Linked DNA regions of Homo sapiens. The protein of the gene in region 2 purifies or fractionates together with the protein of the main gene of each other region. This does not show direct contact. Each region holds a gene or a part of one and is shown on either strand. Other genes may lie near its edges. The genes, in order: NKIRAS1, NAA30, RLIM, ATP1A3, SNRNP27, RAB2B and MAP4K2.

What was found.
Region 1: the proteins of NAA30 (region 2) and NKIRAS1 purify together in Homo sapiens (affinity purification with mass spectrometry; one large-scale study listed by BioGRID and IntAct). This does not show direct contact.
Region 3: the proteins of NAA30 (region 2) and RLIM purify together in Homo sapiens (co-immunoprecipitation; 2 studies listed by BioGRID and IntAct, with this or other methods). This does not show direct contact.
Region 4: the proteins of NAA30 (region 2) and ATP1A3 purify together in Homo sapiens (affinity purification with mass spectrometry; one large-scale study listed by BioGRID and IntAct). This does not show direct contact.
Region 5: the proteins of NAA30 (region 2) and SNRNP27 purify together in Homo sapiens (co-immunoprecipitation; one large-scale study listed by IntAct). This does not show direct contact.
Region 6: the proteins of NAA30 (region 2) and RAB2B purify together in Homo sapiens (co-immunoprecipitation; one large-scale study listed by IntAct). This does not show direct contact.
Region 7: the proteins of NAA30 (region 2) and MAP4K2 purify together in Homo sapiens (co-immunoprecipitation; 2 studies listed by BioGRID and IntAct, with this or other methods). This does not show direct contact.

What each region holds. Positions count from the first base shown.
Region 1 is NC_000003.12:23,903,491-23,906,990, forward strand, and holds part of NKIRAS1 (NF-kappa-B inhibitor-interacting Ras-like protein 1), read right to left. Parts: intron 1-3,500. UniProt on the Homo sapiens protein: Atypical Ras-like protein that acts as a potent regulator of NF-kappa-B activity by preventing the degradation of NF-kappa-B inhibitor beta (NFKBIB) by most signals, explaining why NFKBIB is more resistant to degradation.
Region 2 is NC_000014.9:57,407,586-57,411,085, reverse strand, and holds part of NAA30 (N-alpha-acetyltransferase 30), read right to left. Parts: intron 1,708-3,500; coding exon 1,570-1,707; 3' UTR 1-1,569. UniProt on the Homo sapiens protein: Catalytic subunit of the N-terminal acetyltransferase C (NatC) complex. Catalyzes acetylation of the N-terminal methionine residues of peptides beginning with Met-Leu-Ala and Met-Leu-Gly.
Region 3 is NC_000023.11:74,604,625-74,608,124, forward strand, and holds part of RLIM (E3 ubiquitin-protein ligase RLIM), read right to left. Parts: intron 1-3,500. UniProt on the Homo sapiens protein: E3 ubiquitin-protein ligase.
Region 4 is NC_000019.10:41,970,231-41,973,730, reverse strand, and holds part of ATP1A3 (sodium/potassium-transporting ATPase subunit alpha-3), read left to right. Parts: intron 1-3,188; coding exon 3,189-3,343; intron 3,344-3,422; coding exon 3,423-3,500. UniProt on the Homo sapiens protein: This is the catalytic component of the active enzyme, which catalyzes the hydrolysis of ATP coupled with the exchange of sodium and potassium ions across the plasma membrane.
Region 5 is NC_000002.12:69,896,956-69,900,455, reverse strand, and holds part of SNRNP27 (U4/U6.U5 small nuclear ribonucleoprotein 27 kDa protein), read right to left. Parts: intron 3,080-3,500; coding exon 3,000-3,079; intron 1-2,999. UniProt on the Homo sapiens protein: May play a role in mRNA splicing.
Region 6 is NC_000014.9:21,463,460-21,466,959, forward strand, and holds part of RAB2B (ras-related protein Rab-2B), read right to left. Parts: intron 2,412-3,500; exon of another isoform or gene 2,058-2,411; intron 309-2,057; coding exon 197-308; intron 1-196. UniProt on the Homo sapiens protein: The small GTPases Rab are key regulators of intracellular membrane trafficking, from the formation of transport vesicles to their fusion with membranes. Rabs cycle between active GTP-bound and inactive GDP-bound states.
Region 7 is NC_000011.10:64,796,715-64,800,214, forward strand, and holds part of MAP4K2 (mitogen-activated protein kinase kinase kinase kinase 2), read right to left. Parts: coding exon 3,395-3,500; intron 2,970-3,394; coding exon 2,891-2,969; intron 2,766-2,890; coding exon 2,707-2,765; intron 2,124-2,706; coding exon 2,080-2,123; intron 951-2,079; coding exon 912-950; intron 821-911; coding exon 787-820; intron 667-786; coding exon 561-666; intron 479-560; coding exon 390-478; intron 310-389; coding exon 268-309; intron 180-267; coding exon 95-179; intron 1-94. UniProt on the Homo sapiens protein: Serine/threonine-protein kinase which acts as an essential component of the MAP kinase signal transduction pathway.

The DNA.
Region 1 (3,500 bases), on a different chromosome or scaffold from region 2:
AGACCGCTACAGAGAAACCAACTATACAAAGAAAAGAAAACAAAAACAAACAAACAAAAAACTACCTAATCTATCAAAAAAATAAGATAGTACATCCATGAAATAAGAACAGGATACTAACAAAAACTCAATAGAAGGGCTGGAAAATAAAGATAAGAATATCTACCAAAAAGTGGTACAAAAATATTGAGAGATGATAAACAGGAAAGGGGCAATAAGAAAATTCAAGGACTAGTCCAGAAGGTCCAGCATCCAAAAAGAGAGTTCCAGAAAACAAGGACAGAGAACACAGAGGAAAGAAAGCAATAACAAAATAATTCAAAACTGAAGAACATGCATTTCCATATAGAAGGGGCCCTCTAAGTGTCCAATACAGTAAATGAAAACAGACTGGCCAGGCTCGGGGGCTCACACCTGTAATACCAGCACTTTGGGAGGCCAAGGTGGGCGGATCACCTGAGGTCAGGAGTTCAAGACCAGCCTAGCCAACATGGTGAAACCCCATCTCTACTAAAAATACAAAAATTAGCTGGGCACGGTGGTGCGCACCTGTAATTGCAGCTACTTGGGAGGCTGAAGTGGGAGAATTGCCTGAACTCAGGATGCGGAGGCTGCAGTGAGCTGAGATCGTGCCACTGCACTCCAACCCGAGTAAAAAAAGAAAAAGAAAGAAAAGAAAAGATCAATTCTATGACGCATCACTGAAATTTCAGAACACTGGTGTCTTAGTCCATTTGTGCTTCTATAACAAAATACCACAGACTGGGTAATTTATAAATAGAAAATTTCTTTCTCACAGTTCTGGAGGCTGGGAAGTCCAAGATCAAGGTGCCAGTAGGTCTGGTGTGTTGTTATGGCACAGTCCCTACTGCAAGATGGAGCCTTGTTGCTGCATCCTTGGGAGGGGTCAAATGCTGTGTCCTCACATGGTGGGAGAGACAGAAGGGCAAGAGAGCACTCCCTTCAACCTCAAGCCCTTTTATAAGGATGCTAATCTTTCATGAGGGATTAGTCCTCATGAAGGTGAAGGGTGGAGCCCTCATGATTTAATCACCTCTTATAGGCCACAGTGCTTAATACTGTTACATTGGAGATTAAGTTTCAACATGAATTTTGGAGGAGACACTATCCTTCAAACCACAGCAACTAAGAACAAAGAAGAGAGCCTAAAAAAGTTTCCACAGACAAAGCATCAAGAATCATAATGGTTCCCAGATTCTCAAAAGTAGCACTAGAAGCAAGAAGACAATAGAAGCTGATAAAGTTAAAGAGACACACCTTCTATGAATCAGCAATTTCTAGATATGTATACCAGAATTTATCACATAATAGCCAGGATACATGTACAATAATGTTCCAGAGTAGCATTATTTCCAATAGCTCCAAACTGGAAAATAACCCAAATGTTCATGAAGACCTAACAGACAGAGGTAGTTTCATGCAATAGAATGTTACATCAATGAAAAGTAAACAACCACAGCTACGGCAAAATGGATGAATCTTTTATTTTTTTTTCTAAATAGAGATGGGGTCTCCTGATGTTGCCCAGGCTGATCTCAAACTCTGGGGCTCAAGTGATCTTCCCACCTCGGCCTCCCAAAGTGCTGGGATTCCAGTGGTGAGCCACCATGCCTGGCCTGATGTGTCTTACAAATATAATGTTGAGTAAAAGAAGCCAGACATGGATTAATTTAATTCATAGAAAATCCATAGGGCAAAAAATAAACTAGACCATTTAGTGACACACATATGTGGCAATTAAAAATAAAAAGAATGATTAACCAAAAGTCAAGGGAAGGAATGAGTTGCAACTGGACAGAGGAACACAGGGAGCCACTGGCCTGTCCTCAATGTTGTACTTTTTGATCCATGTGGAGATTATGTGAAGGTTTGTCTTATAATTATTAAACCATATATGCAATGCTTTCAAAATTCCGAAAGTATATTATTTTTGACCTAGAGTTCCATACCCATCAAAATTACAATTCAAATGTTAGTGTAAAATAAAGACAGTTTCAAACATGCAAAGCCTCAGAAAATGTATCACGTATATTTTCTCAGAAAACTATTTGAGGAGACCCTCCATAAAAACTAATATGTAATCATAGAAACAGGAAGAAACAGAACCTAACACAGATATGAAGTAAAGGAAATCACAAGCACAATTAGTAAATATCTCAATTCGGAAGCCCCAGGGTCACGACTACGTCCCAGGTAGAGGGCATGTTGAAGGCCATCATCACTGGATGTTCTGTTCTACTGTACAACCTTTTCAACCCCAGAAAAGTACTGGAAAATGTGCTCCAAAAAAAAAAAAAAAAGGTATAAGCCAAAAGAAGAAAAGAAGACAAGAGATCTAGGAAACAGGAAATCAAAACCAGGGAGAGGCCGGGTGCAGTGGCTCATGCCTATAATCCCAACATTTTGGGAGGCTGAGGCAGGCAGATTGCTTGAGGCCAGGAGTTCAAGACCAGCTGGAGCAACATGGTGAAACCCTGTCTCTACTAAAAACACAAAAATTAGCCAGGCATGATGGCGCATGACCGTAATCCCAGCTACTTGGGAGGCTGAGGCAGGAGAATCACTTGAACCTAGGAGGTGGAGGTTGCAGTGAGCCGAGATCGTGCCACTGCACTCCACCCTGGGTGACAGAGCGAGACTCCGTCTCAAAAAAAAAAAAAAAAAAAACCAAAGGGAGAAACAAAGGGGAAGTTCCATGATGATGGTGGCACAGTAGATAAGAGGACACAGAGCTCCTGAAAGGACACAGCCAAGAAAAAAAATAGATTATCTGATGGAGCTGACCTCATGCAGAACTGAGAAACATCTGGACTATGTGGAAAGAACTAGCAAAAGGTATAAACAAAACTAAAGAAATGACAAATACATGTTGGCTTCCATGAAAACAAAACAAAAAAAAGAATCACAGTATACTATACTGCTCTGCTGAGAATACCACTGACCCTTAAACAACACAGATTTGAACTTCACATGTCTTACATGTAGATTTTCTTTCTCCTCTGCCACCTGACACAGCAAGACCAATCCCTCCTCCTTCTCCTCAGTCTACTCCACATAAAAACAATGAGGATGAAGACCTTTACGATGAACCACTTCCAGTTAATAAATAGTAAATATATTTTTTCTTCCTTATGATTTTTTTTTTTTTTTTGAGATGGAGAATCACTTGAACCCAGGAGGTGGAGGCTGCAGTGAGGTGAGATGGCATCACTATACTCCAGTCTGGGAGACACAGATTTTATTTTATAGGCATTATCATCAAAGAGAGTGTCTTATATCCTTTGCAGTGGCTATTTTTCACTTACATTCTTCTTTTCAAATTTAAATAATGGTAACCTCTTATACATTTTAAAATAACCTTTATTTTTTAAAGCAGGTTTTTGTTTTGTTTTGTTTTGTTTTGATACAGTCTCGCTCTGTTGCCCAGGCTGGAGTGCAGTGGCGTGATCTTGGCTCACGATAAACTCTGCCTCCCGGGT
Region 2 (3,500 bases):
GCTTTCCTTTAAAAAAAAAAAAAAAGCAACAAACTTTCCTGAAAAGGGGCCTTTACCAACTGTTAATGGAGGTAGGGTTTTTAAAAATACAGTAATTAGAGCCACAAAATATATTCCAAACCAAATACTAGAGCAGAAGTAGAGCATATTCAAATGAAAACAACAACAGATTCCTACAGTTTTCACAGAGAATGAATCTTTTTTCTTATGGGTACCTAGGTTTTCCAGTTAAATAAATTATCTATCACAGGTTTACTGACTCAATTGAAAGCAATTAACTGTAAAATTTGTTACATTGCACTGATTGGCCAAAACACAATGTAACTAATAAACATGGTGGCTGTTAAGAAAACCCACAGAACTCATTCCAAAAAAGATTTTCATTTCCCCCTTTTGTTTTTCTGGCAGAAGAAAAGCAAAGCTCCCCCAAGAATTTGCTCATACAAGTGAAAATAAAATAAAGCAGCTTAAAATGGATACAATGCACCTTGAAATTTATTTCCAAGACCAAGAACCTGAAGTGAAGCATTTTAAGAAATGAAAGCAATGTGAATCCAAATCAAGTGGGAAAAACAAATTCAGCTACTTTGTAAAAGCTGTTCTTCGCAGCGTAGCAGTAATTTTGATTAAATAAAATCATATCAACTTACACTAATTTTCTATTCTTTTCCAAAACTTCCCTTACTCTCAAAAGAAAAAGTGCATCTAAACCCCAGCAATTCCCGGCTCCATCAACTTTTCTTATCTCTTTTGAGCCATTTCTCAATTTTCCAAGTAGATTCAACTTGTTACTGTAAGGAAAAAGGGACTTCTAAAGTAAACCATTCTTTCATTCACCTGAAAAAAGTATCCAAATTATAAAAATCTGAAATAATTTATCAAATTTAGAATTTAAATAAAAACAAAAGTTTGCTTGCAAAGGCCTTAAAGAAAAGGAAAAGATAGCATGCATTCAAAAACTAGAGATGAAGACAAATATACTTATCTACACAGGCACTGGCAGACAAAATTTAATTGTTACCTTTACTCATTGTAAGACATACCCACCCTACATTTTTTTCATTCACTAATCACTGAGGTACCAATATTCAAGAATGGAAAATTTAATATTGAAAAAATAAAACCTAAAACTGAAGCGTCTCCCTCACCCACTTCAGAAAACTAGGGCAGGTTTTGTGTGAAATGTTAGTATACTTAAAGACTTTTACAATCCACATTGGCTTTTTTAAGGAACAAAAATTATGTTCCACTTACTGGTTCTGTGATAAAATGATCACTGTGTAAATAACATTGTCAGCAGACTTTGCAAATGAACACATAAATCTTGGCTATCAACTGGCACATCTTGTTGGTACCAAAAGAACTCCTGAAGTTTAAAACAATCTTTTAATTCAGAACAAATGTGCCATGCCAAAGTGCAACAAATATTGTGCGACACTCAATGAGACACTGACAGGTAAGAGCTGCATGGAAATTACTAAATCCACCTGCAAAGCAATTCTGTACAAATTGCATTGCATGCAAAGGTCGATTCTGTGCGGATGATAGTTGTTCCTTGATGTCAGTTTCTCAACGCAGCCACAGTTTAAGTCGCAGTGCATCAACTCCATTTAAATAGTATCTGAACAGCCTCTTATCTCGAACAAAACCAAGATTTTCATAAAGTTTCAAAGCGGACTTATTTGTTATTTCGGTTTCCAAAACAACCTTCAAAGAAATGAGAAAAAAACTAAGTTATAATTACACAATTTAAAAAATAATTTACCAACTAAACAATTTTTTAAAAAATCATACATTATTTTAAAAATTGATAGTGAAAACAATAAATAATATACAGAAAGAACTCAAAAACAGTCATCAAGATTGTAATATTATATTTGGGTCAAGGGCTTGGAGGACCACTGCAGATTTATCTTCTGTTCTACTGATTTGTGTAGTTTGAAATGTTTAGCAATGAGAGTATGTTTTATACTAAAACAAAGATTAATTATTTCCCTGTGGGGAAAGGTAAAATGACTACAGATGAAAATAAAATCAACAATCAAAAGTGCTGGTTTATTTCCTTAAAATAATAAGCTATATTATTATAAGCAGCTATTCAGATTGACTTCCAACTTCTGTATTTTCATTAATATGTCATTTATTCTGGCAATAACTACCATATTTGTCTGGAGTCTCGACCAGAGTCTGCAAACTATAGACTTTGGGCCAAATGTGCCTGCTGTTTTGTAAATAAAGTTTTAGTCAAACAGCCATGTTTATTTGTTTACATGATGTCTGTGGTGGCTTTCTCAATACAAGGGCAGAGCTGAGCAGTTGCCACAAAGACCTATGGTCCACAAAGCCTAAAATAATTACTAGTGGGCCTTTTACCAAGAAAGTTTGCTGAATCCAGACAAGAGGTATTCAAAATGTTACAGTGTATCATAATCACCTGAAGGGTCTGTTAAAATAGATTGCTGAGCCCCACCCTCAGAGTTTATGAGTACGTTTGCAGTAGGACACAAGAATCTGCATTTTTAATATTTTTAAATTGCTAGATGATGATGTTGCTGCGGTCAAGGGACCACATTTTGAGAACCACTGGTCTATATAGCAAAGCTTAACAGAGGAACACATAGTATTAACTTTCATTTAAGTCTTTTGAAATATTACTGAGCCAGTGGCCCTGACAATGAATAACTGGTATTTTTGAAAACTGCGATTTTATTTTTACCTCCCTCTAACACCCTCTACCCCATCTTCCCAACTTTTACACACGTAGCTCTATTTGCCTTTTCAATTGTTTCTCAACTTATTTCATTGAGAACTATCAACACAGTGAGCCACAGTTACTATTGGGTGTCATAACCCTCAAGTGTTTGGAGTGGGTGGGGGGGAAATGGCAAAGTATAATTAAACAAAGGCCCAAGTGAAGCATAAGTCTCTTCCTGTTCTTTCTCAAGCTATCAAAAAGTCTGACAAGAATGCAAACAACTGATGCAAATAATAAAGACAGTACCTCAACTTATATCCAAAATTGAACTCATAATCTGCTCTTCCTCCTCAATTCCATATCTCAGTAAACAGGATCACCCCCCACCACACCAATGCCTCAAACCTGAAACCCAGGAGTCATCTTTGAACCTCATTCCTCTCCAACCACCTATATGCATCCAAGCACTGATTATTGTCAATTCTCCCTCTTAAATCTCTAAGTGGTCCTCTTCTTTCTATGCTCGATATACCACAGTCCAAGCTGCCATCAACTCTCACTATAATTACAAGAGCCTCCTAACTCAAGAGGTCTCCCATTCTCTCTAGAGTTAGGGTGATGCTCTTGTTAATTCTCTACTTAAAACCGTTTACTGATTCCCTCTTGTCCTCAAGAGAAAGTCCACAATCTAAAAATAATATCAAGAGACATAAAAAGTCCATCAATATATTGGCCTCAGCTTTGCTTTAGGTCTCTCTCTTCTTGCTTTCCATGCTCAACACTGAATTTTCAGTTTCTGGAACCC
Region 3 (3,500 bases), on a different chromosome or scaffold from region 2:
ATTCATTCTTGACCTTTTAGAATTTCTACCATTTCCTACATAGAAACTAGAGACAAAACATTTTACCTCCATTCAAAATTTTCCTGACACTGATTTCAGAGATTTTTGAATCCTAAACAGCTCCTGCTTGATGAGCTTGGATTCCGTTCCATGAAAGAGGGAATTCTAAATTTTATTTAATTCAAAATTTTAATGAGACACACTCATAAAGCAACATGTGAACAAATCCAAATCACTACCTCTTCAATAATAATAATATGCTGCTGTCTCCTTTCCTGCTACCCTTCCATATATATGCCAGAGACAATCAAGGAAAATATTTTCCCCATGATACTCCTGCAACACACTTATTTCAAAGCCTCCATCCTTTCTGCCTTAACTTAGCATTTCCCCTGGGCTGGAATTGGGGGTCAAGAGATTTCAGCACTGGCAAGGCACTCCCTCCCTTATAAGGGAATTCAAAGAGTAAGCTATGGCTACAATACCTGCAGAGGTCCCCTGGACTAGACATAATTACATTTGCAAAGAAAATGGAAATCAAGGCAATGCTCTCAAATGCCTTGTAAACTAATTTTACTCTCACACACCCAATGAGCCTGGTCTTATTTTAAGCAGACCTTCACTATCTAAGCGGCATAAAAGAAAGAAATGGAATAAATCTAAAAACCACAAGTTCTGCCCCAGGTAGATATAATCTGCCACTATTGTTTACTAAGTGCAAACAAACATTTTAAAGTTTAGGCATGCCAAAAATACCAGAAAACCATACTCCAAATGATCAAATACAGCTCTATCTCCATTTTGGGTGTGAAAATATTAGTGAAGAATAACATTAACAAAACAGGTCTCCAGATTCTACTTTGCAGTGAGTAACATTGTGGTACATTTCTAGCTTAAGTAGCAAGAGGAAAAAGAGAATCCTTATACACCGCTGGGATCTTTCAACATCATCGTAAAAGAGAAGGTCATAAATCCATTTCTTTAGTTATCTCAGATAAGTCAGAAATTCTGACTTCAGCATATGATTAGCATCAGCTGTTTTTCTATGAAAAGATTACCCGTGAAACATACAGTAATTTAAACAATGAAATATAACTGTTTTGAAGTCACTTAGGTCTCTCTCTGGCTATAAGCAATACTCATCACCCTGTATTTACATAGCCCTTACACCTGTATTTCATTTAATCTTCACAATAATCCCATGAATTAGGAATCACCACCTCTACAGGTGACAAACAGAAGCACAGAGAAAGAAAGTGATTTACCAAAAACCATGTGACTAGTAAGTGGGAAAGGGCCAGTAATTAAATCCAGGTCTCTGCATTCCAAATCCAGTCAACTTTTCACTAAGACAACTGCCTCCCAACATATCCCAAGACTCTATACTTTAAAACACATTCCTTCCTTCAATCCCAATAGGTATGACTAAACTATTCAATCTATGAGCTTTTTATACCATGTTCACTCCCTGTATGAAAAATTCCAAAATGACAAAACACCTTTTGTAAGCAGCACAAACCTAGATGGACTTATTTTTAAATAAGTCAACTTTTAGTAATTTTTAAAAATACAGTTGCTCCTTAGATAAACAGCATATTTTATTAACCTTATTTCTTTTAGAGTACTGTGTGCCAATATATCCAAATCCATTCCTGGAAACAAGAAACCAAATGAGAAATTTTGCCCAATCGTTTCAAAGAGCTACTCATCTGGTCAATGAATGGGACTGTATCCAGTAAGTTTAATTCTGGGGAGGAAAGGCCAGCAAGAACACCAACCCTGAGATTTATTTAAAACAGATTTTATTCACTTTGAGAATTTTAAAGTATTGTTAATAATCTCAACTTCTTCTAGTCATTATTATATATTAATATAAATTATGCAAATGACTGTTTCTGATTACTGCTAAATGTAGTATCTCATTTAATTCTTCTAATCCATGCACACCAAACTTTTAAAAAATTTAATTGTTATAATGTTAAGGCAAAAAGTTATTTAAAACATATTGTTCAGTACTAACAGGTCAGGAGACCTGGTGCTAAGTATAAACACAGGCATGTTATATTTGATGGACACACTACATTATAGTACCCAATTAAGGAGACTTAAGGCATCCAAAAATACTGTTAATAAAACAGACCTTACAAAACTAAATTCTGAAACACCAAGTGAAATGCCTGTGTAAAAACCAATTTTAAAAAGTGAGTCATCTTGGCTGGGCATGGTGCTGGCCGAGTGTGGTGGCCGACATCTGTAATCCTAGCACTTTGGGAGGTCGAGGTCGGCGGATCGCTTGAGCCCGGGAGTTCAAAACCAGCCTGGGCAACATGGTGAAACCGTTTCTACCAAAGACACAAAAACTTAGCTGGGCATGGTAACGCGCATCTGTGGTCCTAGCTACTTGGGAGCTGATGTGGCTGAGGTGGGAGGATCACTTGAGTTTGGGGGCAGAGGTTGCAGTGAACTCAGATCACGTCACAGCAGTCTAGTCTGGGTGACAGAGACTCCATATCAAAATTTAAAAAGTCATATGGAAGAAATTACCTCGTTTTTTAAAAAAAGTGGGGTGGGTGGGAGGGAGGAATTAAGGTAACGTAACATCAACTAACTACTAAATCATGTTGAATATTTCACCTTGTGCATATGTGTTCATTCAAGCTCCAAATTCTATAATAAAGTTCTAAAGCAGGACATGCCAATTTTTAAAAAATTATGGGTATGAACACAAAAATGTGTCACACTGACAAGAGAAGGGCAATCCATTTTGTTTGCAACAGAGCTTCATCAAGAATCTCATAAAGGAGGCTGAGTACAGTGGCTCATGCCTGTAATCCCAACACTTCGGGAGGCCGACGCGGGCGGATCACCTGAGGTCAGGAGTTCAAGAGCAGTCTGGCCAACATGGTGAAACCCTGTCTCTACAAAAATACAAAAATTTGCCAGGCATGATGGCAGGTGCCTGTAATCCCAGCTACTCAGGAGGCTGAGGTGGGAGAATTGCTTGAACCTGGGAGGTGGAGGTTGCAGTGAGCAGAGATCGTGCCATTGCACTCCAGCCTGGGTGACAGAGCGAGACTCCGTCTCAAAACAAACAAACAAAAAACCACACACCAAAAACACACACACACAAAAAAAACAAAAAAGAACTTCATAAAGGAGTCCTTTAAGAACTAGTGACATGTGATCTGTGTCAATGAAGAAAATGTTAAATACCATCACCAAAATGAAAAATACTTTATTCAGTTTTTTAAAAGTTAAATCACAAAGAACTGCTGAATTTAAGGCCAGAAAACAAAAAGTACCATCATATCATTACGTATGTAGGCACCAAAAGTGTTGGGGATTCTTCATATATAGAATGTTTAATTAAAATGTTATGGTATTTGTAACAGAAAAATATTTGCTAACAACCAGGTATCTTTTTTTATTCTACACATGGGTAGCAGGGTGAAACTCAGCTCTGTGAAAGGAAAAAAGAGATACTGAAATCCAGTCTTGGT
Region 4 (3,500 bases), on a different chromosome or scaffold from region 2:
CACAGGGCTGGAGAGACAGCCTTAAACAAGTTAACAGATATGTAATTACAAATTGTGATATATGCCCCGAAGAAAGCAGGCCGCTGTGATAGATAATAGTGAGGGTCCTGCCCAGATGGGGTGGACAGGGAAGGCCTCTCTGAAGTGAGGGAAGAAATACCTAACTTCCGTCAGGGGCCAGGCACGGGGGCTCACGCCTGTAATCCCAGCACTTTGGGAGACCAAGGCGGGAGGATCGCTTGAGCCCAGGAGTTCAAGACCTGCCTGTACAACAAATTAAGACCTCAAAGATCAAAAAATTTTAAAAATTAGCAGGGCGTGGTGTTGCACACCTGTAGTCTCAGAGACTTGGGGGGCTGAGGCAGGAGGATCACTTGAGCCTGGGTGGTCGAGGCTGCCATGAACCATGATGGTGCCACTGCACTCCAGCCTGGGATAGAGCGAGATCCGAGACCCTGTCTCAAACAAACAAACAAAATAACTTCCAACGGGGGCATTCCAGATATACCCAAAAGTAAAGCAAAGGCACAGTGGGCCCCTGCGCCTCCATCCCACCTGCAGCGGCAGTCAGCGCACGGCACACCTTGTTTCTTCCCCACCACCTGGAACACACACTGGATTATGCTGATGCACATTTGTCACCATTTCATCCATAAATAGTTTAGGATGAGAAACCCCTAGTTTGTGGAGAAGAGCACAATGCAGGGAACGAGAATATCAGGTGGGAGCGGCCCAGGCCCTTATTGCTATGCAAGAGACATCAAAGCAATCAAAGAAGCCACACCACAGGCAGCCTGCTTCACCTTCCCTTCCCTCCCTCCCTCCCTTCCTCCCTCCCTCCGTCCCTGCCTGCCTGCCTTCCTTCCTTCTTTCCTTCCTTCCTTCCTTCCTTCCTTCCTTCCTTCCTTCCTTCCTTCCTTCCTTCCCCTTCCTTCCTTCCTTCCCCCTCCCCTCCCCTCCCCTTTTTTTGATGGAGTCTTGCTCTGTTGCCAGGCTGGAGTGCAGTGGCGTGATGTTGGCTCACTGCAACCTCCACCTCCCAGCTTCAAGCGATTCTTCTGCCTCAGCTTCCCACATAGCTGGAACTACAGGCACACACCACCACTCCCAGCTAATTTTTTGTGTTTTAGTAGAGATGGGGTTTCACCATGTTGGCCAGGATAGTCTCGATCTCCTGACCTCGTGATCCACCCGCCTCAGCCTCCCAAAGTGCTGGGATTACAGGTGTTTGCCACCGTGCCCGCCTGTTCTTTCTTAATGATTGACCTCATTGTTCATGGGCTAATCTTTTTACTTATTTATTTATTTAGAGACAAGGTCTCACTCTGTTGCCCAGGCTGGAGCGCAGTGCTGCAATCATCAGTCACTGCAACCTCGACCTCCTCAAGTGATCCTCCCACCTCAGCCTCCCAAGTAGCTGCGACCACAGGCTCGAGCCACCGTGCCTGACTAATGTTTATTTTATTTTATTTTATTTTTTTGAGATGGAGTCTTGCTCTGTTGCCCAGGCTGGAGTGCAATGGCACAATTGCGGCTCACTGCAACGTCTGCCTCTGAGGTTCAAATGATTCTCCTGCCTCAGCCTCCCAAGTAGCTGGGGTTACAGGTGCCCACCACCACGCCCAGCTAATTTTTGTATTTTTAGTAGAGATGGGGTTTCATCATGTTGGCCAGGCTGGTCTTGAACTCTTGATCTCAGGCAATCCTCCTGCTTCGGTCTCCCAAAGTGTTGGGATTACAGGTGTGAGCCCCAGCGCCTGGCCTGGATTAATCTTTATTTTGTTTACTTTAGACAACCTGTACTGGTTGAATATTTATTGAGATATGGCATGCATACAGTGAGTTGGGCATATTATATCTCATTAAAATATTCAACCAGACAGGGTGTATAAATTTTTACACATGTACACAGCCATGCAACCACCAGACCCCAGTCAAGATAGAAAACCATTCCAGCCCCCCATTTAGGTTTTGTCTGCTCTCTTCCAGTCTATATCCCTCCTCCTAGACATAACCATTATCCTGACTTTTAGCCCAGAGACGGGTGCTGAGCCTGCTCCAGTTGGAGTTGGATGCTAAGAATGCTTTTGTGTCTGGCTCGTGTCACTCAGCACGGGATCCAAGGTCCAGCTGTGGAGTTGTGTCCGTAGCTCGCCCCTTCTTGCTGTGTAGTATTTGACTGCATGGATGTACCGTGGTTTATTCATCCCTCACCTGTTGATGGACATGGGGTTGACTCTGGCTTTTGGCTCTGATGAGTGGTGCTATGGTGAACATTCTCGTACTTGCTTTTCGCTGGGCATAAACAGTCCTCCTCTCTTTTGGGTATAAAACCTAGGAGTCGGATTACTCGGTCGGTGGGGTGGGGGATGTTTGATAGCAACTCCGAAACCATCTTCCAAAGTGGTTATTTCAAGAATGTTTCCACAAAGGCGATGTGGTTGGATGTTTATGTGGAAAGGTAGGTGGGTGAGGGGCCAGGTGTGGAGACTTATGCCTGTAATCCCAGCACTTCGGGAGGCTGAGATGGAATCACAGCCCAGAAATTAGACAAGCCTAGGAAAAGTGGTGAGACTCTGTCTCTACTAAAAATACAAAAATTAGCTGGACGTGGTGGCGCGTGACTGTAGTCTCAGCTACATGGGAGGCTGAGGCAGGAGGATCACTTGAGCCTGGGAGTCGAGGTTGCAGTGAGCCGTGATCATGCCACTGCACTGCAGCCTGGGCAACAGAGTGAGACCCTGTCCCAAAAAGAAAATAATGGTGGGTGGGCTGGGGGGTAGAAAAGGACGCTGGACAGGCCGGGCGCGGTGGCTCACGCCTGTAATCCCAGCACTTCAGGAGGCCGAGGAGGGCAGATCACGAGGTCAGGAGATTGAGACCATGCAGGCTAACACAGTGAAACCCCGTCTCTAATAAAAATACAAAAAAATTAGCCGGGCGTGGTGGCAGGTGCCTGTAGTGCCAGCTACTCGGGAGGCTGAGGCAGGAGAATGGCGTGAACCCGGGAGGCGGAGCCTGCAGTGAGCCGAGATCGCACCACTGCACTCCAGCCTGGGCAACACAGCGAGACTCTGTCTCAAAAAAAAAAAAAAAAAAAAAAAGGACGTTGGATGAGGGCAGAGGAGGGGCAGAGGGAGTGGGGCTCCCTGGCATGGGCGCCTGCTCTGAGCCTGCCTGTGCCACAGGCCGCCTGATCTTCGACAACCTAAAGAAGTCCATTGCCTACACCCTGACCAGCAATATCCCGGAGATCACGCCCTTCCTGCTGTTCATCATGGCCAACATCCCGCTGCCCCTGGGCACCATCACCATCCTCTGCATCGATCTGGGCACTGACATGGTGAGCCCTGGCAGCCACCCTTGGGGCCCAGGAGGGTGGAGTCCTCCCCTCTCCGGCTCACCCGGCCTCCTCCGCCTAGGTCCCTGCCATCTCACTGGCGTACGAGGCTGCCGAAAGCGACATCATGAAGAGACAGCCCAGGAACCCGCGGACGGAC
Region 5 (3,500 bases), on a different chromosome or scaffold from region 2:
TGAGGTATATGATTTTGAACTCCCTATAATAGGAAGTAAGCATGACTTAGAAAGACTGGTCTTGGGCACAAAAAAGTAAATGATGATAACCTTTTTACAAAGTTCGATTCCTAAAGGTTTACTGATTTCTGGAAACTATTTGCAGAATTGCATATTATTAGCCCTATCCTCATTTATTTACATGCTGGCATAGAAAATTATCCATTAATAAACAAAACCAAACTTTGAAACCATCTAGAAAAATGTTATTGAAGTAATTGCAGTTTTAGCCATTATTTTCAATGGCAAAAACTGTAATTACTTTTCCACCAATCTAATAAGATGAAAGGGAAAAGCCAAGCACATTGCTGTGAGGCTACAGTCCCAGCTACTTGGGAGGCTGGGGCAAGAGGATTTCTTGAGCCAAGGAGTTTGAGTACAGCCTGGACAACATAGGAAGACTCTGTCTCTTCAAAAATAAAAAAAAAAAAATGGACTGAGGCAGGAGGATTTCTTGAGGCCATGAGTTCAAGACCAATCTAGGCAGCACAGCAAGACCCTATCTCTGCAAAAAATAAAAACATTATCCTGGCGTGGCGGCATGTGCCTACTCTCAGCTACTCCAGAGGCTAAGGCAGGGAAATTGCTTCAGCCCAGGAGGTCAGGCTGCAGTGAGCCATGATCATACCACTGTACTCCAGTATGGGTGGCAAAACAAGACCCTGTCTCTAAAAAACTAAAAAATGAGGCCGGGCGCAATGTCTCACGCCTGTAATCCTAGCACTTTGGGAGGCCAAGGCAGGTGGATCCCTTCAGGCCAAGAGTTCGAGACCAGCCTGGCCAATATGGCGAAACCCCATCTCTACTAAAAATACGAAAATTAGCCAGGCGTGGTGGCAGGCGCCTGTAATCCCAGCAACTTGGGAGGCCAAGGCAGGAGAATCGGTTGAACCCAGGAGGCGGAGGTAGCAGTGAGCCGAGATTGCGCCGCTGCACTCCAGCCTGGACAACAGAGCGAGACTCTGTCTCGAAAAAATAAAATTAAAATAAAAAATAATACAAATAAAAAAATGAAAATACAATCAAATAGAAAGGAAAATGGGTGACTATACTGGCATATGAAGAGGTCCCACAATAGATCAATGATGAAACATCACAAGACACACATTACTTAAAAACACAAATGAGCTGACGTTATAACTGATAGCCATGAAGCCAACTGCATATAAACTAAATTGACATCCTTGTAGATGTCATTTTAAAAAACTGACATCAATTAGTGTGATGGTACTCCATAATTTTTTTAAGATCTATGACTTTTCACCTAAGTTTTCCTTTATAAGCAAACATCTTCTTCACTGACTACATTTAAGTGATGGGTGGCACCACCCTTAGATCTGACTTTCAGGAACTTTAAACCTAACATCCAGCAACAGGAAAACCAAAAAACAAAGAAAATAATTCCATTTTCTTTGGGGAAAAAGTTCCCTCCCCATTCTTCTAAAGACAATAAAACTATAGTTGCTTTACTTTTGACATATTTTAATTCACCCAACATATATCTTAATAAACTTACATTTCACCCAACATATATCTTAATAAACTTTCATTTATAAAATAGTCTTTGGAAAATAAATAAGAATTTAGGGCATTCAAGGGAAAAAAGCTGATAAATAAACTTCATTAAATTCCAAAACAGAGCTCACATAACCATTGCAAGAACAAGAGCTTGTTCTTAATTTCTCACCTCAAAACAGTCATGCCTCAGTACTCCTAAGTTACACACTGTCATTTTAAAACATGTGAGCCCTACACAGTCACATTAGTTAGAAAGAAACTTACAGCCACTGAGATTACCCCATTCCATTAGCAACTCAATGGAATACAAGACTTGGGAAAGTGGATTATTTTTGACAACTTTTTCTCAAACATCTCTATTTCCATTTGCAAAACTAAATGGAAAGACTTAAAATTCTAGAAAAGAGATTTTAAAAAATATGTTTTTCTTTCCACACACCCTCCCTCTCTCCATCCCCTCTCCTCTCTTCATTTCCTCTCTCTATACCCATCTCTCTCTTCCCCCATCTCTCGCTCTATGCTCTCCCTCCTCTATATAATCCCTCCCTCTTTTTCCTCTTCCCTCATCTCTCTGCTATTATGAAGGCTAGACAGCATTCCCTCCCCTATCCACCCCACTTCTAAGCTATGAGACAAGTATGCAGCTGCCCAATGTCATCTCTATCTGGCAGCTGGATTTTGTTCTTCCATTTCCCAGCAGTTCCCCTTCCAGAAACTCTGTTCTGGGTTAACTGTATCACTCAGGGTCCCAGCCTGACACCTGAGAGGCATTACTAACTACTCACTCCCACTTCCCCCAGCTCCTGAATCATTCTCAACTCAGTTCAGGCCTTTATCATCTTTCACTTGCACAAATCAGCAGTTCTCCCTGCCTTCAATCTAACCCACCTCCCATCTGTCCTCCATGCTGCCCCCAGAGTCATTATTCCAAAACACACATATAACCATGCCACTCCCTTATTTAAAAATCACTACTTCCTCTCCTCAACACCAAAAGAATAAACTCTGAATTCCTTAGCATGACTAAGGGCATCAAAAGCCCTCTGTGATTTGCCTCCTACCTCTATTTCTAGCCTAAGTCACTAGCCCATCAGCACCCCTTTATCCCTGGTCGAATCTGAAATTCCCACAATACACTATGCTCCTTTACACCTACATGGCATTTTCATGAGCTCTTCCCTCTACCTGAAATAATCTTCTTCCTCTTCTTTGTCTGATCACTTCTACTTGTCCTTTAAAATCTAATTCAAACATCGTCCCTGGCAACCACTCCCTGAATTCCAATGGCAGTTCACTGTTTCCTCCTTTGTATTCTCAAAGCCCTTCAAACAGATAGTTATTGTCTTATAACCAAATAAATTTGTATAAATGGAAAAGAACATGGAAAGATAGGACAGTCATAACATATTAATTCAAATGAGAATGTTGCACGTTTTACTTACTTTTGTGGAGTCAAAGGAGGCAAATCCCATTAACTTCATCATTTCTATTTCTTCCTCTGTTTTGCCCTCTAAGTCTTCCTCTGCAAAAAAGAATAATTTTGTGACCTCTCTATCATTTCAAATATATACATAAATAAAAAGAGAGGTGGTAACAGATTAATAGTCATTCCACCTCACTAGCAGAGAACACACAAAACAATTAGCTGAAGATGAGTCTAATGAAAAAATTCCTCTTACATTTGGACAGAATGTAACTTATGGTACAAAAAAAAAGTCCTCTCCTTGAAGCCTTTAGACAGGATTACCTTTTAAAAAAAAACCTGGGTTTCATATTAAGGACTACCTTTAATATCAGGCATGACACTATATAGTTCTGAAGACACTTCCAAAATAGAATATTCTCATGTTTTTAACTATCGTTCTATATCAGGAGCACCATAGATAACCAGCAACTTGCTAGGGTGCAATTAAAACAAAATCTCAGGCTGGGCACGGTGGTTC
Region 6 (3,500 bases), about 36 Mb from region 2:
TGGTCACAAACTCCTGAGCTCACGCAATCTGCCTGCCTTGGCCTCCCAAAACGCTAGGATTACAGGCATGAGCCACCGCGCTCGGCCAAGACATCCTTTCTTTACCAATTTCTTATAGGAGAAGAGAATTCTGAATACAAGGACAAATAATGGTGTAATCTCTAAAGAGCTTTCCCCACTGTTTTCCAAATAGTACCTCTTCAACATTGCAGGCTGTTTTGGCTGAAGTTTCCATGAATATAAGTCCATGCTCCCTAGCAAAGGCCTCTCCTTCTTCTCTCTTCACATCCCTGCGGGACTCTAGGTCACTGCAAGAGATTAATTAAGGAGAAAATTTAAAAAAAAGATCCAAGTGAAAGAGGAAAGTCTATTTCTAAAAGAATTCCGTCGTGGTTTCAACTGCCAGTTATTTCATAAAGAATGTAGATCCTACATGATACTCTTATACAGAGTTACTGATTTTTGTAGCATCTTGGAAAATATTCTTTAGTTTTGGGACAGCTGCTGCATAGTTGAAGATAATACCTCACTCTATTACAGAGAAAATGGCTTATCAAGGGTTAGGCAAGCCCCCATAGTTACACAAAGCTTATGCTCTATTGCTTGTTTTTCCAATGAGATCAAGGAGAGCAAAGTATAGATGAGGAAAAAAAAAAACTTGGCTGGGCACAGTGGCTCATGCCTGTAATCCCAGCTCTTTGGGATGCCGAGGCAGGTGGATCACGAGTTCAGGAGTTCAAGACCAGCCTGGCCAAGATGGTGAAATCCCGTCTCTACTAAAAATACAAAAATTAGCTGAGTATGGTGGCAGGTGCCTGTAATCCCAGCTACTCGGGAGGCTGAGGCAAGAGAATTGCTTGAACATGGGAGGCGGAAGTTGCAGTAAACTGAGATCGCGCCATTGCACTCCAGCCTCAGCGACAGAGCAAGACTGTCTCTTGGGCGGGGAAGAAAAAAAGGAAAACTCTAGTTACTAGAAAGCAGAAAAGTCATAAGATGTCCCATCCAGCAGTGATGAGCATCTTCCTTTTTTACTGGAATCAAGCCACAAGAAGAGAATGAGCCAGGAATAAGGAAAACACAGTTGTCTTAAGTCTCACTGGTTTCGTTACTAGTGCATATAAAAGCAGCTTGCCACCAGGGAATTCAGAGACAGTGATATGGATAAAATTAGGTGAAAAAAAAGATAAGAGCTAAGGACTGAAAAAGGGAATAAAAATGGCAACAAAAGACCTTATGAAAAACAGGATAAAAGGCTGCAGAGCTGGGCGTGGTGGCTCATGCCTATAATCCCAGCACTGTGGGAGGCTGAGGCAGGAGGATTACTTGAGCCCAGGAGTTTAAGAACAGCCTGCACAATACAGTGAGACCCTGTCTCTACAAAAATTTAAAAATCAGCAGAGCGTGGTGACACATGCCTGTAGTCCCAGCTACGTGAGAGGCTGAGGTGAGAGGATCTCTTGAGCCCTGGAAACAGGTTGCCGTGAGCTGAGCACGTTACTGTACTCCAGCCTGGGCAACAGCACGAGACCTTGTCGCAAAAAAAAAACAAAACCAAAAAAACAAACTGAAGAATAAGGCAAGGTTGGGCTGTTTGTGATTCGTATTTTTCAATTTGAAAATTTTCATTTGGGAGGTTTCCAGTTTTCCAACTCCTTGGAAAAAAAGTGTAAGACCATTAAAGAACAACAAATCTACAATATTTTAATTTATTATACCATCAGCTGTGTGAAGACCAGGGAAGATCTAAATGTCAACCCTCCCAAATTTGTACCTCTAGCCCAGATGCTTGACTAAGCACCAGATTTGTACATTTGTGAATTCTTCATTTCCACACTGATACATAAAACGGACTTCAAACTTAACACATCAAAATGGAACTTCTTTTCCCCTAGCCTGTGTTTGCTGCAGGCTTCTGTATCTCAGTAAATGGCATAAGCCAAAAACCAAAGTGTTATTATTGATACCCTTTGCTCCCTACTCCAAATATCTAATCCATTCCAAAGTGAAGTACTTCCAATATGTACCTTAAAATTATCCTTTCTTTCTCTTTCCAGGGTCACTTCCTAGACCAAGCTACCATTCTTTCTCATGTGGACTATTGCAACTGGGATACTACTTCAGTCCTTGTTCTCCTCCAGAGTGATCTTTTAAAATCTGATCAAGCCACTTCTCTACTTAAAACTTTAAAATGCTTCAGGTGTATTTATTTATTATTATTTTTAATCCCCCATCTCCCAAGCTTCAATTTCCATGTATTTAGAATAAAATCCAAAACCCTTACTCAGGCCTCTAAGGTGCTATAAAATCTGGTCCCTACCTACTTTTCCAACCTCATCTTGCACTATTCCCTCTTGATTTAGTCCAATCACACTAGGTTTCTTTCAATAAACGTGTCAAGCTTCTTCCAAGTTCAAGGTGTTTGTATAGTTTGTTCCCCCCAAGTAATACCCTTTTAAAAAAATCTTTGCCCAGCAGGCTCTTGCCCATCCTTCAGATCCCAGCTTAATATCACTCCTAATCAAAAGTAGGTACCCTGTTATTCTTTCGTAGCACCCTTTTTCCTCCATTGCATTTATCACAATTTACAATTTGATACAAATAATTTTATATTTAACATCTATGCCCCCACTAGACTGTAAGCTGCACAAGAGCAGGGGGACGACTTTTTTCCACCTTGCAAACTCAGAATCTGGCACAGTCGTTTTCAATACATTGACTGATACACTAAAAATAATTAGCAGGATGGGTGTGGTGGCTCACGCCTGTAATCCCAGCACTTTGGGAGGCCGAGGCAGGCGGATCGCCTGAGGTCAGGAGTTCAAGACCAGCCTGATCAACATGGAGAAACCCCGTCTATACTAAAAATACAAAAAAATTAACTGGGCTTGGTGGCACATGCCTGTAATCCCAGCTACTCGGGAGACTGAGGCAGGAGAATCGCTTGAACCCAGGAGGTGGAGGTTGCAGTAAGACGAGATCATGCCATTGTGCTCTAGCCTGGGTGACAAGAGTGAAACTCCATCTCATAACAAACAAATGAAAACAAACAAACAAACAAAAAACCAATTAGCCTGTGGCCACAGTTCTCAAATAGTACACTCTGGGCACTACTACAAACTCACAAGGGTGCCATGGGATACCTCAAACTTTTGAGAAAAACACAGTAACACTCAACACAAGGATACTTACTACATGAATTACAAGCTTAAGACAGTTGCAATGTCAATATCAGACCATGATAAAATTCGTTCAATATCTTCATATCTCTGAGAAGCTGTTTCTGGCAGTTGCTGTTATAAAAAAGCAAGCACTACACAAAAATCAATATGAAATGGGAAATGAGAGTAGCAGTGTGCAATCGTGATTCCAAGGTTTGAGAAGCTATGCAGTGCCCAACAGACACATAGAGGTCTTTAGTAAGTAACTGTTGCTATTTAAGAATGAAATAATTTTTTTTTTTTTGAGACAAAGTCTCACTCTGTCGCCCTGGCTGGAGT
Region 7 (3,500 bases), on a different chromosome or scaffold from region 2:
TGCCAGTTTGGGCATGGGGTCAGAGGTCAGACATGGCCCCTGGCCCAAGCTGAGGGATTCCTTGGGCTCCCGCTTCCTCCCTGCCCCCACCTACCCCGAGTAACAGGGTGAATCCAGGTGACAGCAGCGTGGATCCGCAGGGGGCAGCCATTGAAGACCTTGGAGAAGCAGGCGCCCATCTGCAGAGGAGGCAAGAGGCTGGCGAGGGAGTGCAGGGGTGGTGGGTGGCAGGGCTGTGGGACTGCAGGGCTTGGGGCAAACACTTACATGCACCTTGGGAGTTGGGGGGAGCCCGTGGCAGGATGACCTCTGGGAGGGAGGAAAGGAGTCAGGGCTGATATGACAGCTGTAGCCGCCCGTCTCCCCACCCCACTGTAGCACCCTCTTACCTCAGGATCCTCCCGCTGCTTCATGGTGGCCCAGGCCGTGGGCAGCAGTGGGGAGCTGTTGGGGCCTGAAGGAGGTGGGGGCAGGGTTCCTGCAGGCACAGGCGTGCTGTAATTTCCTGCTGTAGCCCCCACCCTGGGGCTGCCTCCTGGCCTCCCAAGCCTGAGACTCACCTGGGGGACTGGACAGAGGCTCCTCTGCTGGAGGGTCAGTGGGGAGTGGCCCTAGGAACGGGGCCCGCTTGATGGTTCCCATGGTATCGTCTGGGGAGTCCAGCTCCTGGTAGGAGGGGCAGGGCCCAGCCCGGCCGTTACCAGGTTGCCCTGTAACCACATCCCACTCCAATCGTACCCTCTGCAGTGGCCTGGATCCCAGCTCCAGCCTCCCTCTGTGTGGCACCTGGAATTCTGAGGCTGACCGAATAGTCAGACTCCTGTGGGAGGGAGATGAGGCGTGAGGCATGAGGTGTGACTGGCACCAAGGCCACCTGCCCCTTGCCCCTCCCCCAGGCCCACATCCCTCACCTTTCCTCCAGGGCCTCCTGGACCGACTGCAGCAGGCTCCTGGGCAGTGGGGAAAAGGGGTCAGAGGTCAACCTTTCCTTTTTTTTTTTTTTTTTTTTGAGACGGAGTCTCGCTCTGTCACCCAGGCCGGAGTGCAGTGGCGCAATCGCGGCTCACTGCAAGCTCCGCCCCCCAAGTTCACGCCATTCTCCTGCCTCAGCCTCCCAAGTAGCTGGGACTACAGGCGCCCGCCACCGCACCCGGCTAATTTTTTGTATTTTTAGTACAGAGGGGGTTTCACCGTGTTAGCCAGGATGGTTTCGATCTCCTGCCCTTGTGATCCGCCCACCTCGGCCTCCCAAAGTGCTCAGATTACAGGCATGAGCCACACCCGGGCTTTTTTTTTTTTTTTTAAGACAGAGTTTCATTCTTGTCACCCAGGCTGGCGTGCAATGGCAAGATATCGGCTCACTGCAACCTCTGCCTCCCAGATTCTCCTACCTCAGCCACCCTAGTAGCTGGGATTACAGGCGTGGGCCACCATGCCCAGCTAACTTTTGTTTGTTTATTTATTTATCTGAGATGGAGTCTCGCTCTGTTGCCCAGGCTGGAGTGCAGTGGTGCAGTCTCAGCTCACCGCAACCTCCGCCTCCCGGGTTCAAGCGATTCTCCTGTCTTAGCCTCCTGAGTAGCTGGGATTACAGGCGCCTGCCACCACACCGGCTAATTTTTTCTATTTTTACTAGAGACGGGCTTTCACCATGTTGGCCAGGCTGGTCTCAAACTCCTGACCTTGGGATCCGCCCACCTCGGCCTCCCAAAGTGCTGGGATTACAGGCGTAAGCCACCACAGCCAGCCTAATTTTTGTATTTTAAGTAGAGATGGGGTTTCACCATGTTGGCAAAGCTGGTTTCGAACTCCTGACCTCAGGTGATCCACCCACCTTAGCCTCCCAAAGTGCTGGGATTACAGGCATGAGCCACCCGCCCAGCCTAATTTTTGTATTTTAAGTAGAGGTGGAGTTTCACCATGTTGGCAAAGCTGGTCTTGAACTCCTGACCTCAGGTGATCCACCCACCTCAGCCTCCTAAAGTGCTGGGATTACAGGCATGAGCCACCACGCCCGGTCAGAGGTCAGCCTTTCTGCCGCCCCTGCCACCCCCTGCAGCTTCCCCATACCTCACTTACCCACTCAACTCTTCCTTTCCCAGTAGTGTCCACTCTTCCTCCCACTGGGGGAAACCAAGGTAGAGACCGGGGAAGAAGCAGAGACAGATGCAACGTGAGAGGGCGCTCAAGAGATTCAGGAAAGGAAAGACAGACAGACAGACAGACGGGAAAGGTGAGATGGAAACACACAGAAGATGAGAGAGACAGACAGTGGGAGGCAGAGCTGAAGACTGTGAAAGAAAGGGCAACAGACAGCGAGGGAGGAAGAGACAGGCTGGGGGGTGAGGAGAGACCAGTGACAGAGCCGATGAGGGCAGAGACAGAAAGTCAGACCACTGGGGACACACAGGTGGGAAAACGAGGCTGAGCAGGGTAGGGTGAGGGCTCAGGCACATGACGGCCTCCTTTTGGGAAAGGCATGGTCTCTGTGCTACCTTCCAGACACCCACCTAAAAGAACTTGGCCCAGGAAGGAGCCCCTAACCCTCCAGGTCCCTGGGTAGGACAGGCTTGCTTGGACAGTCTAAGGCCCAAGGCCCGAGGCCACCCAGCTTCAAATCTCCCTTGATTTGAGCTGCTCGGCCTCCATCCGACCTCCCTGCCCCACCTCTGGGCACCACCTTCCCCTCAAGGCCTGCCCACTCACCGGCTCATTCAGTGGGTCAGTTTCCTTCCTGCGTGGGGCGCCAAATTTCACCTGGTGAACTGGGGGGCCCAGAGTACAAGAGTGAAGGAGCTGGAGTCTCAGGATGGACCTCTACTCACACCAAATCCATGTGCACACAGGCCCCCCAAAATCTGCACACACACAGCCCCTGCTGCAGACTCACACTGGATCTCCGAGGGGGTCCTCTCGGCTGGGCCGTGCTGCCCCCGGGAGTGAATGGTGTCTGGAAACATGTCATAGGTCTAAGGAAAAACAGAAACAGTGTGGACACACCTGGCACGCGCCTCATGCCGGGGCTGCTCTAGGAGCTTCACACGCACCAGTGCGTTTTGCTTTCATGACAGCCCTCTGGGACTACTGTAAAATAAAATGGAACCCCACTTCACAGATGAGAGAACCCACACAGAGCAGTGCCAAAGATCACACAGAAAGCAAGAAAATGGCACAGTCGTGGTCATGGTCAGCTTGGACTCAAGGGCAGGGACCTATCAAGGGGGTGGTACAGGAAACAAAAGTCAGCATGACAGAGACTCCTAATGGGAGGGCTCAGCTGAGGCCAGCTCCCTGAGCTGGAATGGTGCCAGTTAAAGGACCTCCACCAACATCACCCTCGGGCTCTTTCTAAGCAGACCAGCCCAAGACTCACTTTCCAGCCCCCCTCACCTACCTCCAGCTCACAGTCCTCAGGGGAGGGGGTCCCCAGATGAGGGTCACTGGCTTTGTCCAGCAGCTGTGTGAGGAGGGCCCGAGGGAGCTGCTGAGTCGTGAACGGG